4 linked regions of the Homo sapiens genome follow. The protein of the gene in region 1 interacts with the protein of each later gene in a biochemical or structural test. Each region holds a gene or a part of one and is shown on either strand. Other genes may lie near its edges.

Evidence for each region.
Region 2: of the proteins of MYH6 (region 1) and TRIM63, one has a biochemical effect on the other in vitro, tested with the Homo sapiens proteins (one study listed by BioGRID).
Region 3: the proteins of MYH6 (region 1) and CALCOCO1 form a complex in vitro, tested with the Homo sapiens proteins (one study listed by BioGRID).
Region 4: the proteins of MYH6 (region 1) and ESR1 form a complex in vitro, tested with the Homo sapiens proteins (one study listed by BioGRID).

What each region holds. Positions count from the first base shown.
Region 1 is NC_000014.9:23,405,473-23,409,731, reverse strand, and holds the start of MYH6 (myosin-6), read left to right. Parts: upstream 1-1,458; 5' UTR 1,459-1,479; intron 1,480-2,123; 5' UTR 2,124-2,156; intron 2,157-2,495; 5' UTR 2,496-2,508; coding exon 2,509-2,709; intron 2,710-3,961; coding exon 3,962-4,105; intron 4,106-4,259. UniProt on the Homo sapiens protein: Muscle contraction.
Region 2 is NC_000001.11:26,061,099-26,064,664, reverse strand, and holds part of TRIM63 (E3 ubiquitin-protein ligase TRIM63), read left to right. Parts: intron 1-3,330; coding exon 3,331-3,499; intron 3,500-3,566. UniProt on the Homo sapiens protein: E3 ubiquitin ligase. Mediates the ubiquitination and subsequent proteasomal degradation of CKM, GMEB1 and HIBADH.
Region 3 is NC_000012.12:53,717,389-53,720,954, reverse strand, and holds part of CALCOCO1 (calcium-binding and coiled-coil domain-containing protein 1), read left to right. Parts: intron 1-1,125; coding exon 1,126-1,216; intron 1,217-3,566. UniProt on the Homo sapiens protein: Functions as a coactivator for aryl hydrocarbon and nuclear receptors (NR). Recruited to promoters through its contact with the N-terminal basic helix-loop-helix-Per-Arnt-Sim (PAS) domain of transcription factors or coactivators, such as NCOA2.
Region 4 is NC_000006.12:151,943,654-151,947,219, forward strand, and holds part of ESR1 (estrogen receptor), read left to right. Parts: intron 1-519; coding exon 520-855; intron 856-3,566.

The sequences.
Region 1 (4,259 bases):
GTGTGAGGGTGGGGGGAAGGCCAGAGCAGGGGAGTCTGGCTTTGTTTCCTGAACACAATGTCCACTTAGTCATAACAGGAACAGCCTGCTGAAGACCTGACACCTACAGCCTCTGAGAGATGGCAGCATTGGAGGATGGGGAGCGGGGCCTTGAGGGCCTAGGGTGCTTGAGGACACCCACAAAGAAGGGAATGTGAGTATAAGCCCTGGAGGGCTTGGAAAGGGGCAACAAAATTCTGCCTGGGGAGGGGGCAGGTGGCAGAGCCCCACCCCGATGGAATGCAGTGCCTGGGGACCAGATGGTGTAAATCCCCAGGCCTGCCAGGCACCTGCACCCTCTGGCAGCCCGGTGAGGCAGAAGGGGACAGCCCCTCACCCACCCCCCTCCTCTCTCAGGCCCTAGGATTAGCACCATCTTCTTCTGCCCACCCCACCCCAGGAGCAGAGGGTAGCAGGGGAGGGCAAAAGCCTATGTGTGCAAATGCGGATGTGCAAATGTGTGCATCCATGTACACAAAAGAAAGTAGAAAAGAAATCTGCAAGCTTGAGTGGGTAAGTGTGAAAAATCTGCATGTGTGGCTGAAGATGGGCACAGACACGGTCAAGTCTGTATGTGAGAGTGCTGAACTGGGGTTCTGTGTGAAAATCTGCCTGAGGCGGCAGGGAGAATCACTGCCATTGCGTGAGCAGGTTGGATGTTGGCCACTCTATCAGGAGCATTAGGGAAGGGGTGGGGACTCCAGACGTGTCCCCAAACCAGGGTGGCCTCAAGACCTTGGGAGAACACTTGTCTGAAGACTTGGGGAACAGAAGGAGACCAGGCATGGCACTTATGCAGACTGAGGCCAGGACAGAATTTCCTGACAAAAGAAAACTGAGCCATGGAGATGGACAACAGATCCCTTCCCTGGGCACCATACTGCAGCTTTTAGTCCCTAGCACTGGGGGCTCCAGTACTAACAGCAGGAAGATGCTCCCAGCCTGGGACTGTGTGAGGGAGGTCAGAATGGGAAGGAGAGGCTGGGGAACAGGGGAGGAAAGCCCATGGTTGGGAGGCGGAGGACAGGCATTTGGCCTGCAGGAGAAGGTGACCCTCACCCATGTTTTCAGTTCACCCTTCGGGTTAAAAATAACTGAGGTAAGGGCCATGGCAGGGTGGGAGAGGCGGTGTGAGAAGGTCCTGTCTTCCCACTATCTGCTCATCAGCCCTTTGAAGGGGAGGAATGTGCCCAAGGACTAAAAAAAGGCCGTGGAGCCAGAGAGGCTGGGGCAGCAGACCTTTCTTGGGCAAATCAGGGGGCCCTGCTGTCCTCCTGTCACCTCCAGAGCCAAAGGATCAAAGGAGGAGGAGCCAGGAGGGGAGAGAGGTGGGAGGGAGGGTCCCTCCGGAAGGACTCCAAATTTAGACAGAGGGTGGGGGAAACGGGATATAAAGGAACTGGAGCTTTGAGGACAGATAGAGAGACTCCTGCGGCCCAGGTAAGAGGAGGTTTGGGGTGGGATGCCCTGCAGCCCGTCCACAGAGCCCCCACCGTGAGGGACCTCCTTCACCAGGAGTGGGGTGCAGGTCAGTTGGAGGCCTAAGGGCTCTATTAAAACTGCCTATCTCCAGGCCCAGGGAAGTTCCCCCTGACACAAGGAGGTTCCACAGGAAACCCAGAAACCTCTTTTCTCCTTCTCTGACTCTCCATTTCTTTCTCTGCATCATTCTGAGTCTCCTACATGTTGTCTCCATCTTTCCATCTTCCTTCCTCCTTTGGATGGCTTCCTTCCCTTGATCCTGGTTTTATCTTGCCTCTTGGTCTTCATCGACACTTGTCACAATCATGCTTCTTTGTCTCTCTCCCTTGTCCTTCCTTCTTGGCACGTGTTCTCACCTCCCTGCCTCTCTGCTTCTAACCCTGTTTCCACACCCCGTCCCTCGCACTCATATTGACTCGGTGCCCTTTCTTTTCTGCCTCTGCGTCTTTCCCTTTCTGACTCCCTGGTCTGTCCTGCCTGTCTGCGCTCTGGGGCTGCCTCCATCCCCGGGTGGCCTGCCTCTGTTGTTCTTCACTCTCCTCATCTGTTCTTCTCTCTGCCCGGCTCTACCTCTGTTGTTCCTTGCTCCACCCACGGTCCAGATTCTTCAGGATTCTCCGTGAAGGGATAACCAGGTGAGAACTGCCCCCATTTTCTCTGCAGAGACTGGGGCATGCTTCTCCTGGGAGCCGGATTGCTGGACCAGGGGTCTGCTGTCCCAAGCACTCAGCGCCAACCCTTAGCATACTCCAGCCAATGCCACCCCAGGGAAACCCCTTACAGAGATTGTCCTTCAGCATCACCTCAGAGGGCAGGAGAAGCAGAGCCCTGAGTAGGGGAGGGTGCAACAGCAGGTGCCTCTCCCAGGGTGGAGGAGAGGAGCGGGGGTAGGGAGGGGGGCTGCAGAGGACAAAGCCACTCGCTGGAGCCTGGGCTCCCTCAGGAGTAACATAGCCCTCCTGTCTCTGACCCAGGGGAAGCACCAAGATGACCGATGCCCAGATGGCTGACTTTGGGGCAGCGGCCCAGTACCTCCGCAAGTCAGAGAAGGAGCGTCTAGAGGCCCAGACCCGGCCCTTTGACATTCGCACTGAGTGCTTCGTGCCCGATGACAAGGAAGAGTTTGTCAAAGCCAAGATTTTGTCCCGGGAGGGAGGCAAGGTCATTGCTGAAACCGAGAATGGGAAGGTGAGTAGGGCATGGCGCCGGGGCAGAAGGGAAGGAGGTCTGGGAAAGAAGATGCAGAGGTGGAGCCACTTGCAGGGGGAGCTGAGAGGGCTGGAGAAAAGCCAAGGCCAGTGGGGATGCCAGGACATGCTCCTTTGAGGAGCCCAGAATCTGATCCCTCTCAAATTGACCTGAGCTGGTGCAACAGGTGCCACCCAGGGCCATGTTCCCCCTGCCAGAGAGGATGCTGAGGAAGAAGAACCTCAGTGTTCGCCTAAGAGGGGTCTTGTAGATAAAGAGGGCACAGACACAGCATTAAATGATGCCCCCTTCTTGCACTTGTATCCCTCTTCCCTGTGCCTCAGTTTCCTCCATGAGTCCACTTTCTCAAATTCCGTTCACCCAAATCAAGAGTAATTCTTAGACCCAGATGAACACAAAGATCAGAAACTTTTGAGCTGAGCACTCTCCTTGACTGGCACTCAGAAGCTCTGGTCCCTGGTTTGCTCACACCAGCCAAGAGAATCACCCCTGGTTACCAGCTGCGGCTCAGGGCTGTGTGCCTCATGAACTCGTTGACTGAATGTTACAACCCATTGAAGTGTAGAATAACAGGCCACAATCCCCTGGGGCTTTTGACTCTGATCCCAGCTCTGCCACCCGCTAGTCACTGTGCAGGCAAATCATTTAGTCATTTAGAGCCACGGATTTCTCCACTATAAAAAACACTGGAATACCTACTGGCAGGATCTAATGACATCAGGGCATGGCAAACTGACTGCTGCCAATCAAACCACACCAACAGTGATGGATGGGGAGTGTGGAGTAGATGGGTGAACTACTTTTCCAGCAGGGGTGAAGGTTTGCCCTGAGCAACAGATACCCTAAAGCGCTGCCCGCGGGAGACAGCCTCGGGGTCAGCATAAGGTGTGCACAGATCTGAGAGCTGCCAATCTCCAGGTCTGCCCCAAGACCCTTGGAACATAGGGACTGAAGAGTGATGGTCATGGGCACAGGGTGTCCCCAGGATGGTCTGGGGATCTGGCAAGAGAAAGGTACCCTAGGACAGTCTCTAGGATGGGAGATACAATGGGAAGGGAAATTACCTGGGGAAAGTGTCCCAGGGGACATCGGGGTAGGGGCCGGGGCACTGGTCAGAGCAAGGGGAGCAAGGCCAAGTCCCTGTGTCCTGGGAGGAGGTCAGTGGGCAGTGCTGGCAAGGGTCCCGGAGGGATTGTGGTCACTCATCCTCCTGCTTATGCGCCCCCTCCAGACGGTGACTGTGAAGGAGGACCAGGTGTTGCAGCAGAACCCACCCAAGTTCGACAAGATTGAGGACATGGCCATGCTGACCTTCCTGCACGAGCCCGCGGTGCTTTTCAACCTCAAGGAGCGCTACGCGGCCTGGATGATATATGTGAGTGGCTCCTGCACACTGCAGAGGCTTCCTGTGCTGCGTGGAGGCCTAAATAAGCCAGGGGGGCTCTCCCAAGAAGAGGGGGAGAGACTCCCAAGGGACCCAAGTCCCCTTCCCCCCTCCACCCCTAGTCAGCTGCAGGAGGAGTAGAGCC
Region 2 (3,566 bases), on another chromosome or scaffold:
TCAACCATTTATTGGGTACCTATTGTGTGCAGGCGCTGTTCTAAGTACTTTCAGGCATTTTTCCTATCTGCTTCTCATAGTAACCCGGGAAGGCATTCCTGTCTCCATTTTACCATGAGGAAATGGAAGCTCAGAGAGGATCAGAGATTTGTCCAAGCCCACACAGCTAGCAAGTGGTAGAGCTAAGAGAGAGAGGGTGTGAGAATATTTTTTATTTTTTTAATTTTTTTTTTTGAGGCAGAGTCTTGGTCTGTTGCCCAGGCTAGAGGGCAGTGGTACGATCTTGGCTCACTGCAACCTCCACCTCCTCGGTTCAAGTGATTCCCCAGCCTCAGCTTCCCGAGTAGCAGGGACTACAGATGCGTGCCAACGTGCCCAGCTAATTATTATATTTTTAGTAGAGACAGGGTTTCACCATGTTGGCCAGGCTGGTCTCAAACTCCTGACCTCAGGTGATCTGCCCGCCTCAGCCTCCCAAAGTGCTGGGATTACAGACGTGCACCACCACACCCAGCTAATTTTTGTATTTTTTGTAGAGACAGGGTTTCACCACGTTGGCCGGGCTGGTCTTGAACTTCTGACCTCAGGTAATGCGCCCGCCTTGGCCTCCCAAAGTTCTGGCATTACAGGCGTGGGCCACCGCGCCTGGCCGGCCGGTGAATATTCTTAATTGCTGAGCTAGATTGCCTCTCATGTTGCTAGAGCACAACACTACAAAATGCAAACATATTGTTGATCATAAGGAATAATAAAATCAATTCCACACCAATGTTAGCCTACCCAGTGCCGACCTATGAAGAGCATGTTATATGTGAACCTTTGAGGCCTTTCCGCATAGTTGAATGACAATGACAGCTGCCCTCTATTGAGGGTCTGCTCTGTGCCGGGCACTCTACATTCATTATAGACAATTTCTACAGACAGATTGCAGTAGTTCTGGGAGGAATCCCACAGGCAAGAGAGGTGAAATCACTAGTCCAAAATCACAAAAATGAATGTAAGAGAACAATCTGGATATGAACCCCGATGCCAAAGTCTGAGCTTGGGAGGGTGGGCATCTGGGAGGGCTGCGGGCGCATGAACCAGACCCTCAGGCTCTTGCCTCACCTCTGCACTCCCTGCCATCCCTTTATCAGGGGATGGAGGCAGGTGGCAATGGCAGACCCCTGCCAGCATAGGGACCCTGGGGTAAACTATGCAAAAAGACAAGCCTGGAAAGGGGCATATTTAAGAACTTCAGAGGACAATAGAGCCCAGGGTGTGATCAGTCATGTAAGGCTGTTTGGAGGTGAGGCATTGACACTGATGGGAACAGTCACCATTTGACATTTGCAAGATGCCTGTTCTGTTTGGGGCTGGGAATCGAAGGTAGTGTTGGCTTTCAATGAGTGTATAGTCTAGCCGGAGACAGAAGACTCAAAAAATCGAATCTACACCAGGCATGGTGGTATGCACCAGTTGCAGCTACTGGGGAGACTGAGGTAGGAGGATTGCTCAGCCCAGGAGTTCGAGGCTGCAGTGTATCTGTGAATCGCTGCTGCACTCCAGCCTGGACAATATGGTGAGACCCTGTCTCAAAACAAACAAACAAACAAACAAACAAACAAAGGCTGGGTGCTGTGGATCACGCCTGTAATCCCAGCACTTTGGGAGGCTGAGGTGGGTGGATCACATGAGGCCAGGAGTTTGAGACCAGCCTGCCCAACATGGTGAAACCCCATCTCTACTAAAAAATACAAAAATTAGCTGGGCATGGTGGTGCACGTCTGTAATCTCAGCTACTCAGGAGGCTGAGGCATCAGAAACTCAGGAGGTGGAGTTTGCAGTGAGCTAAGATCACACCACTGCACTCCAGCCTGGGCAAAAAATCAAAACAGAACAACACAACAACAAAAAAATCCCCCCCAGGCCCCAATGAATCTAGGTTAGGAAATGACTGATGTCCCAAGAGAAGCACAAATAACAGGTTGGAGGTCTCAAGGAAGAAAGGTAGTTCTAAGCATATGTGTTAGGGGAGAAAGTAGAGGAAGAGACTTGGGCCTTTGAAAGAATCTCTGGACTAGAAGTCAGGCTTGTGCTGGGCTGTTGGACAGCCCTGGGCTACCCACTCACCAGTCACCATGACATGGGGCATACACACTGCTCCTTCTCTGAGCCTCAGGGGCAACCTCATGGCTCAGAGAGGGTCAGAGGTTTATCCAAGGCCATACAGCTAGAAAGTGGTGAAGCTAAGAGAAAGAGAGAGGGTATGACTGACTCTGTGGTGAATATTCTTTTTTAAAAAAATTGTTTTCTTATGGAGAATGTTAATAAATTCAAGATGGTGAATATTATTGATTCCTATGCTAGTTATTAATTTATTCTTTCTTTCTTTCTTTCTTTTTTTTTTTTTTTGAGACGGAGTTTTGCTCTTGTTGCCCAGGCTGGAGTGCAATGGTGCGATCTCGGCTCACCGCAACCTCTGCCTCCTGGTTTCAAGTGATTCTCCTGCCTCAGCCTCCCGAGTAGCTGGGATTACAGGTGCATGCCACCATGCCTGGTTAATTTTTTTGAGTTTTTAGTAGAGACGGGGTTTCATCATATTGGTCAAGCTGGTCTTGAACTCCTGACCTCAGGTGACTCTCCCACCTCGGCCTCCCAAAGTGCTGGGATTACAGGCGTGAGCCACTGCGCCCAGCCTTATTGATTTATTCTTTCTACCTTTGTTTAATTACCACCTCCTCTATGCCAGGCACTGTACAGTGTAGGCACAGGGGTGAAGAAAACAGGCAAGTTTCCCTACCTTGATGGAGGTTACAGTCTGGTAGATTAAATATAGAATTAAATGAGGCCATCAGTATAAATTTCTCAGCTCAGAGCCCAGCCTGCAGTAACCAAAGCTAAGGTGACTATAATTAGAGCAACTGAACTCTAGGCTCCTCTGCCCTTACTTGCTGTATGACCTTGGACGAGTCAATTCACTTTTCTGGAGCCCAGTTTCCTCTTCTCTAAAACATCTCCAGGTCTGACTCTGGAATTCTATGGCCCTTTCTGTGTCCTTGGCACTGGCAGAGCCTCAGGCTAACTCCCTCTTAGGATGTGGGGACAGATTTGGTGTCATTGGCTTCCCAAGTCCTTGGTCCCCAGAAGATGAAAGATTTTAGGGCAGCCAAACACTGAGGGCCCAGGGCATAAATCTGGAGATTCACAGACACACTGCAGCCTCGAATTCCTGGGCTGAGCAATCCTCCTGCCTCAGCCTCCCCAGTAGCTGCGACTGGTGCATTGGAGCTGGGGAGGGGGATGCAGGGACACAGGACCCCCATGACTTGTGACTGTTCTCCACTGCAGTCGGCCGCTGCAGAAGGGCAGTCACCCCATGTGCAAGGAGCACGAAGATGAGAAAATCAACATCTACTGTCTCACGTGTGAGGTGCCCACCTGCTCCATGTGCAAGGTGTTTGGGATCCACAAGGCCTGCGAGGTGGCCCCATTGCAGAGTGTCTTCCAGGGACAAAAGGTACTGTCTCCAGCCACTTTTACCCCCAGCCTGGGCCTGCTGGGCACGGCCTGATGATTCAGGAGGC
Region 3 (3,566 bases), on another chromosome or scaffold:
TAACATTTGACAGCTGTCATTTTTGTATCTCTTGTATTGAGCCAAACTCTCCTCTCCTATAACTTACCAGGGGGTCCTGAGACCTCTGGAGCCACACAGAATAAATTTCTTTCTTCTTCCAGAAAATTGTTTTCTCTACCAAGTAGCATAAATATTAACCACCACCTCCCATGTCCATCCTTCAAATTTTCACCAGTTTAAACACTCTAGTTCCTTATTTCATTAAATGACAAAATTATGTTTCATTTACTACTGGTAGGTGTGATATTTTAAAAAACTGTTTAAAAGAAAGAGGCATTCTATCCAAGGCCCAAAGTAATAAGTGAGTTCGTCTGAGAGGCTTCTTCAGGATATGTTAGTCTCACCCTAGGGAGATATTAGATGTCTACATTCTAAGTCATAGGTTAGAAAAGCAGTGGTCAGATTGAGCATCTGGAAAAGATTAGGGGCTATCTAGACCAGAGGTCAACAACTATGGCCCACAAGCCAAATCTAGCCTGCCACCTGTTGTATATCCCACAGGTAAGAATAGTTTTTACATCTTTTAATGGTTAAGAACAAATTAAAAGAAGAATATTTTGTGACATGTGAAAGTTGTATGAACTTCAAATCTGTGTTCAAGTTTTATTGAAACATCATGCTCATTCGTTTACATACTGTCAATGGATGGTCCTGCACTACAATGGCAGAGTTGAGTAGTTGCCACAGAGACCACATGGACTGCAAAGCATAAAATCTTTACTATCAGGCCCTTTACAGAAAGAGTCTGCCAACTTCTGGTCTAGATCAAAAGTTTATAATCAATAATGACTGCCCTTGTCTCAAAAAGACTAGATTCTAGTCTCTTGATTGAGTGAAAACAATGGGAGCCATCAGCAAAACATTCCTTAAAATATTACACAAAAAGATAAGAAAAACTATTTCTGTCTAAATTGTTCTCTAGAACCTGGAATCTTGGTTTCCTGGGGCTTAGAACTGGATCAGCTGGCTTGGGGATTTATGCATCCCAGAGTGAAATGGAGCTCTGGGCCTAGAGCAGCAGCAGCAGAGCACAAGACAGAGGCCTGAGTCCATTCCTTCTCTGGGTGGAGCAGATTGTCTGACATGTCATCCCACCAATCACAGGCTTAGAGACACAGTGAAGGCCCTGACTCGGGAACAAGAGAAGCTCCTTGGGCAACTGAAAGAAGTACAAGCAGACAAGGAGCAAAGTGAGGTAAGGGGCTCAGAGTTGATTTGCTTTCTCCATTGTCCAGCCAGTGTTTGATTCCCTCTCGAGAGCCAGACACCAAAGGGAATAAAAATGTAAAGAAGACATTGTGTGCACTCTACTAGGGAACATAAGACATATACCTAAATCAGGATTAGTCAGAGTGGAAAAGTGGAATATAAGAGTGTCACAAGAGAAATTTTTTTTGTTTGTTTTTTGGAGACAGAGTCTTACTTTGTCTCCTGTGCTGAAGTGCAGTGGTACGATCTTAGCTCAGTGCAACCTCTGCCTCCTGGGTTCAAGCAACTCTCACGTCTCAGTTACCTGAGCAGCGGGGATTACAGCCATGTGCCACCATGCCCAGCTAACTTTTGTATTTTTAGTAGAGACAGGGTTTCACCATGTTGGGCAGGCTGGTCTCGAACTCTTGACCTCAAGTGATCCACCCACCTCAGCTTCCCAAATTGCTGGGATTACAGGTGTGAGCCACTGCGCCTGGCCTCAAGAGAAATCTAATAAAGTATTGTGGAGCTCCAGGGAGGTGTATGAGTACACATCTTGTTAGAGACATTAGAAAAGTCTTTTTAAAATGGGTGTGGAGGCCAGGCACAGTGGCTCATGCCTGTAATCCCAGCACTTTGGGAGGCAGAGGCAGGCGGATCCCCTGAGGTCAGTTCAAGACCAGCCTGGCCAACATGGTGAAACCCCATCTCTACTAAAAATACAAAAATTAGCCAGGTGTGGTGTCAGGTGCCTGTAATCCCAGCTACTCAGGAGGCTGAGGCAGGAGAATCACTTGAACCCGGGAGGCAGAAATTGCAGTGAGCCTAGATCACACTACGGCTCTCCAGCCTGGGCAACAGAGTGAGACTCTGTGCCAAAAAAAAAAAAAAAAAAAAAAAAAGGGAGGGCCATGGCTGGGCGTGGTAGCTCACACCTGTGATCATAACACTTTGGGAGGCCAAGGCGAGAGGATTGTTCAAGCCCAGGGGTTCAAAACCAGCCTGGGCAACGTAGTGAGACCCCATCTCTACAAAAAATTTTAAAAATTAGCCAGGCATGGTGGCATGCACCTGTAGTCCCAGCTACTCAGGAAGCTGAGGTGGAAGGATTGCTTGAGCCCAGGAGGTCAAGGCTGCAGTGTGCTGTGATCGCACCCCTGAACTTCAGCCTGGGTGACAGAGCAAGATTCTGTCTCAGAAAAAAAAGGGGTGGGGTGTGGGGCCTAGTACTTTCAAACCTTTTTAGCAGAACCCTTTCCTCTCCTCCCACCAATAAAGTTTTTAATCTTGTGTGGAATCTCACTGAATAAACAAAAACAATGTTTTATTACTATAAATTTATTTTTATAAATTTGAATGTATAACCTTTACTTAAAAGGTAATGAAAGCACTTAGGTAATTTTGAGGCATACCAAACTTTGAAATGAGAGGCTATCGAAGACTGTTCTGCCAGCCTCAGCAACTAATGTATTTCCGTATTTTATTTTGGTTGTACAATATCAAGAACACCTTGAGTCACACACAAGTAGGTGCAAATAACAATTTTTAAACTGTCCACCTTGCAACTCAGTTTACTCTTCAATTCAATAGAAAATACAGTAGAAACTATTCTGAGCTTTGCAAAAAAATGAATTAACCTGGAAACATATGTCAATTGGTGATCTCCAGTGTGTTAACTTGTGATTTTATGGGTTTTATTTGTTTTGTTTGTTTGTTTTGAGACGGAGTTTCATCTTGTTGCCCAGGCTGGAGTGCAGTGGCGCGATCTCGGCTCACTGCAACTTCTGCCTTCCGGGTTCAAGAGATTCTTCTGTCTCAGCCTCCTGAGTAGCTGGGATTACAGGCACCCGCCACCACGCCCAGCTAATTTTTTGTATTTTTAGTAGAGATGGGGTTTCACCATGTTGGCCAGGCTGGTCTGGAACTTCTGACCTCAGGTGATCCGCCCACCTCGGCCTCCCAAATCATGCCGAGATTGCAGGCATGAGCCACTGCACCTGGCCTTGTGTTGTTTTTCTTTTTTTAACATAATTGTTAATAATTTAGAAGACATTCAAATCAAGTATCTGCAGAACTCCTAAATCCCTTCTTCAGTACCCTGGGTTTATGTGGAAGATTGTTAAAAAACCCTTTGCTCAGCAGTGAGAATAGGTAGAATATGAGTAGACAGAGATGAGTGTGAGGCTATTCTAGGAACAGAGAAAGACGTGAGCAAAGGCTTAAAGGCCAGAACACTCAGGGCAGTTGAATGTGCGGGTGAAGTGTTTGAGATAAGGCCTAGGTTAGACTGTGGTGGATCTTGAGCTTCATTTTTATTCCACAAGCGTGAAAGGCTTTGATGATTTTTCAAGCAG
Region 4 (3,566 bases), on another chromosome or scaffold:
CATTAAGAAGTCTACTTGGACTAAATGCTTTTAAAAATGCCCTTTTAATTTACTATTAAAAGAATATTCCTAGCAGAAGTAGTCTTGGATGCTAAATTCTATTTTAAGAATAACTAAAATTAGAATTCTGTTCTTTTTATAACACCTGTTACACACACACCCCTACCTAGTGTGTCGGAATCAGTTTGTATGGGCTCACCAAAGCCTACTGTTCAATTTTCAGGAGTTTTGTAAGCCATTTGATGTCAGACAAGTGGCCTGAAGTTTGTTATGGTGGTGGTATTTACACCATGAAAATTGGCATGTTATGGTGGTAGTATTTACACCATGAAAACTGCTACAAATAGAAATCTTTTTCTTCTTCTCTTGGAGAGCCACTTGTTGAACACTTACCAGCTCACCTGTGCTTGAAAGTATTTCTTCAAATAAAATGAAAGCTGGTTAGCTTTGAAAATTTTTTGTATAAAAGTTTACACGGGAAAAAAATAAACTAATTTTTTTTTCCACCTGTGTTTTCAGGGATACGAAAAGACCGAAGAGGAGGGAGAATGTTGAAACACAAGCGCCAGAGAGATGATGGGGAGGGCAGGGGTGAAGTGGGGTCTGCTGGAGACATGAGAGCTGCCAACCTTTGGCCAAGCCCGCTCATGATCAAACGCTCTAAGAAGAACAGCCTGGCCTTGTCCCTGACGGCCGACCAGATGGTCAGTGCCTTGTTGGATGCTGAGCCCCCGATACTCTATTCCGAGTATGATCCTACCAGACCCTTCAGTGAAGCTTCGATGATGGGCTTACTGACCAACCTGGCAGACAGGGAGCTGGTTCACATGATCAACTGGGCGAAGAGGGTGCCAGGTAAGAATGCGAAGCGCAGCTTTTAAGAGTCAATAGCTTTTCAAGAACTTGTTGTGATGTCATGGGAGAAATAGTGGGGGAAAAAGAAGCAATAACATGTTATGTAATTGGTTTCAAGGTTACAGGAGATGTGTTCATTTTCAGTATCAATACACTGTAATTTTCCAGGAGATTAGGAAATAATATTTTTAAATCAGAATCTAGAAGACTGAAATTCTTAAATTGACATAATTTATTTTTAACCCATCTCATTTACCAAAAAGATTTAGGGTGGACACTACATGGTAAAACTATTTAATAGTGTATGTTCACAGTAGCAGAAACTTTTAACACTAAATGAACTACAAAAGTTTGTAATATTAATGACCTTTGTTGAAAACATCTCAATTATTAATCAAACGATTTTATCTTAAAAAGATTTTTAAGATTCGGTGTGGTGGCTCGTGCCTGTAATCCTAGCACTTTTTGGGGCTGAGGTGGGAGGATTGCTTGAGCCCAGGAGCTTGAGGCCATCCGGGGCAACGTGGCGAAACCCTGTCTCTACAACAAATTTTTAAAAATTAGCTGGATGCAGTGGCACACACCTGTGGTCCCAGTTATGGGGGAGGCCGAGGTGAGAGGATGGCTTGAGTCCAGGAGGTCAAAGCTACAGTGAACCATGTTTGTGTGGAGTGCCACTGCACTCCAGCCCAGGTGACAGAGCAAGACCGTGTCATAAAAAATAAACCACACAAAAAAAGAGAAAGATCTTTATGGATTAAAAAGATAATAATAAGTGTATTTACTGAATGCCAATTATTTATCCAACCTGGTGTATGCTTAGTGTTTTAGGAGAAAGAGAAAGGCAATGGAAAAATAAATTAAGGTATCATCCCTGAAAGAAACTTTTAGAAAGACACAGTGGCTGAAGTGATACCTTGTTCCTTCAGTTGATTCTCTCAGAACTGGTGTTCTGGTAAAATTGGACTGTTACTCCTGTTATTCAGGGAGAAGAACTCAAGTTTGTATGGCAACAAGACTAGAAAATGACTTTCTCCCTGCCCCAGTGTATTCGTTCAGGAGCTAATGTAGATAAACCGAGGCAAGAAGAAGCTAAATTTTTTTTCTGGGCTTATAGGTTAAATGAGTGATAGATTTAGTTGGAGGTTTTCTCATTTGGTTTCTTTTAATAGATGAAATTAATTGTTTCCTATGAAGCATGAAATGTTTTATATGAAACTAAAAAAATGTGGAGTTTGTACTTGCATTTCAAGGGTCACTGCTCTGTTATAGGCCAAGTGAACTTATGTCTGGCCTTAGAGAATCTTACATGTATTTGCATCTATCAGTATATAAACATGTGGGCCGTAGAATAAGGAGCCAGCAGTACCAGAACCCAGCCTTGTTAGAGGCCACCATTTTGGTGGTTGAGTGGTTATTAGTTTACATGGAAGCATGGAGAATAATAGGCAAATGTAGGTTTTCAGTGTCAGTCGAACTGGCAAACAAAAATTTCTGGTCATCTTCAGAATGAAAAGTTTTCTTGAGTACCTACATATTTTAGCATTTTCATATGAAGCAGATACATTATAAGTTAATTGTTGGAATCTAATTGTAATATGGCTGTAAGTTTTTTCTTTATATTTGTTATTGCCTTGTTCTTATATTATAGGGAAAGAGAAACAAACAAACAAGCAAAGAAACTAATGGTCATATATTTGAGAGCCAACTCTTGGTTGCTGTTCAGTTTTATTTTCCTGTAAACATATATTTTCCCTTATGAAATCTTGGGAATATTAGCTCTGGAGCACTGCTGAACTCAAGTACAGACATTTTCATGTGTATCAGTAGATTCCCATCATGACATTTTTATAATAATGTTGAAGAGCATTTTAAACAACTGGAATTAAGCTCAAATACATTACCAGTGGTTGAAGAATTCACATCAATAATCTTCTGAATTTAGGAATAAAATGGAGAAGTCAAGGAAAGGAAAATATTATACACAGGCTAGCAATAGTTAAAATACAATTATTAAAGCCAGAGCTAGACAAAATTATGGCAATGAGATGTGTAACAAAACCACTCTGTAACTTCATCATGTTCGTTTAAAAGACCTGAATGATTCCAAAATCCTTAGACCAATAAACTATGTCTTCTTACTTGATAATTAAAAAAAAGAATTATAAAGGCAAAAATGAAATTATATGTATGTGTGTTTGTGTGTGTTCCATGGGAATACAGCTGTTGTAAATCAAAGGCCTACTTGCCTGACCAAGCAGAATAAAAATAGTCATTGATTTTAAAGAGACTAAAAGTGAGGGAAGAAAAAAGTCTTCTGCAAAAGCTCTACAGATGGTTGTCAAACTTTTCAGAAAAATAGACAAAGCAACATTTTGAAAAGGATTTATATCTTTTATATATTCAAATACCATCTGTTATTTAAAAAACATAGCCCACACTGAATATCTGATATAGACAATATAACGTTTATGAGATAATAGTTTGAGAATGACAATAATAATAGTAAGTTTTAAAAGAGGAAATAAGCCGGGCACAGTGGCTCATGCCTGTAATCCCAGCACTTTGGGAGGCCGAGGCGGGTGGATCACCTGAGGTCAGGAGTTCAAGACCAGCCTGGCCAACATGACAAAACCCTGTCTCTACAAAACAGTACAAAAATTAGCCAGGCTTGGTGGCACACATCCATAGTCCCAGGTACTTGGGATGTT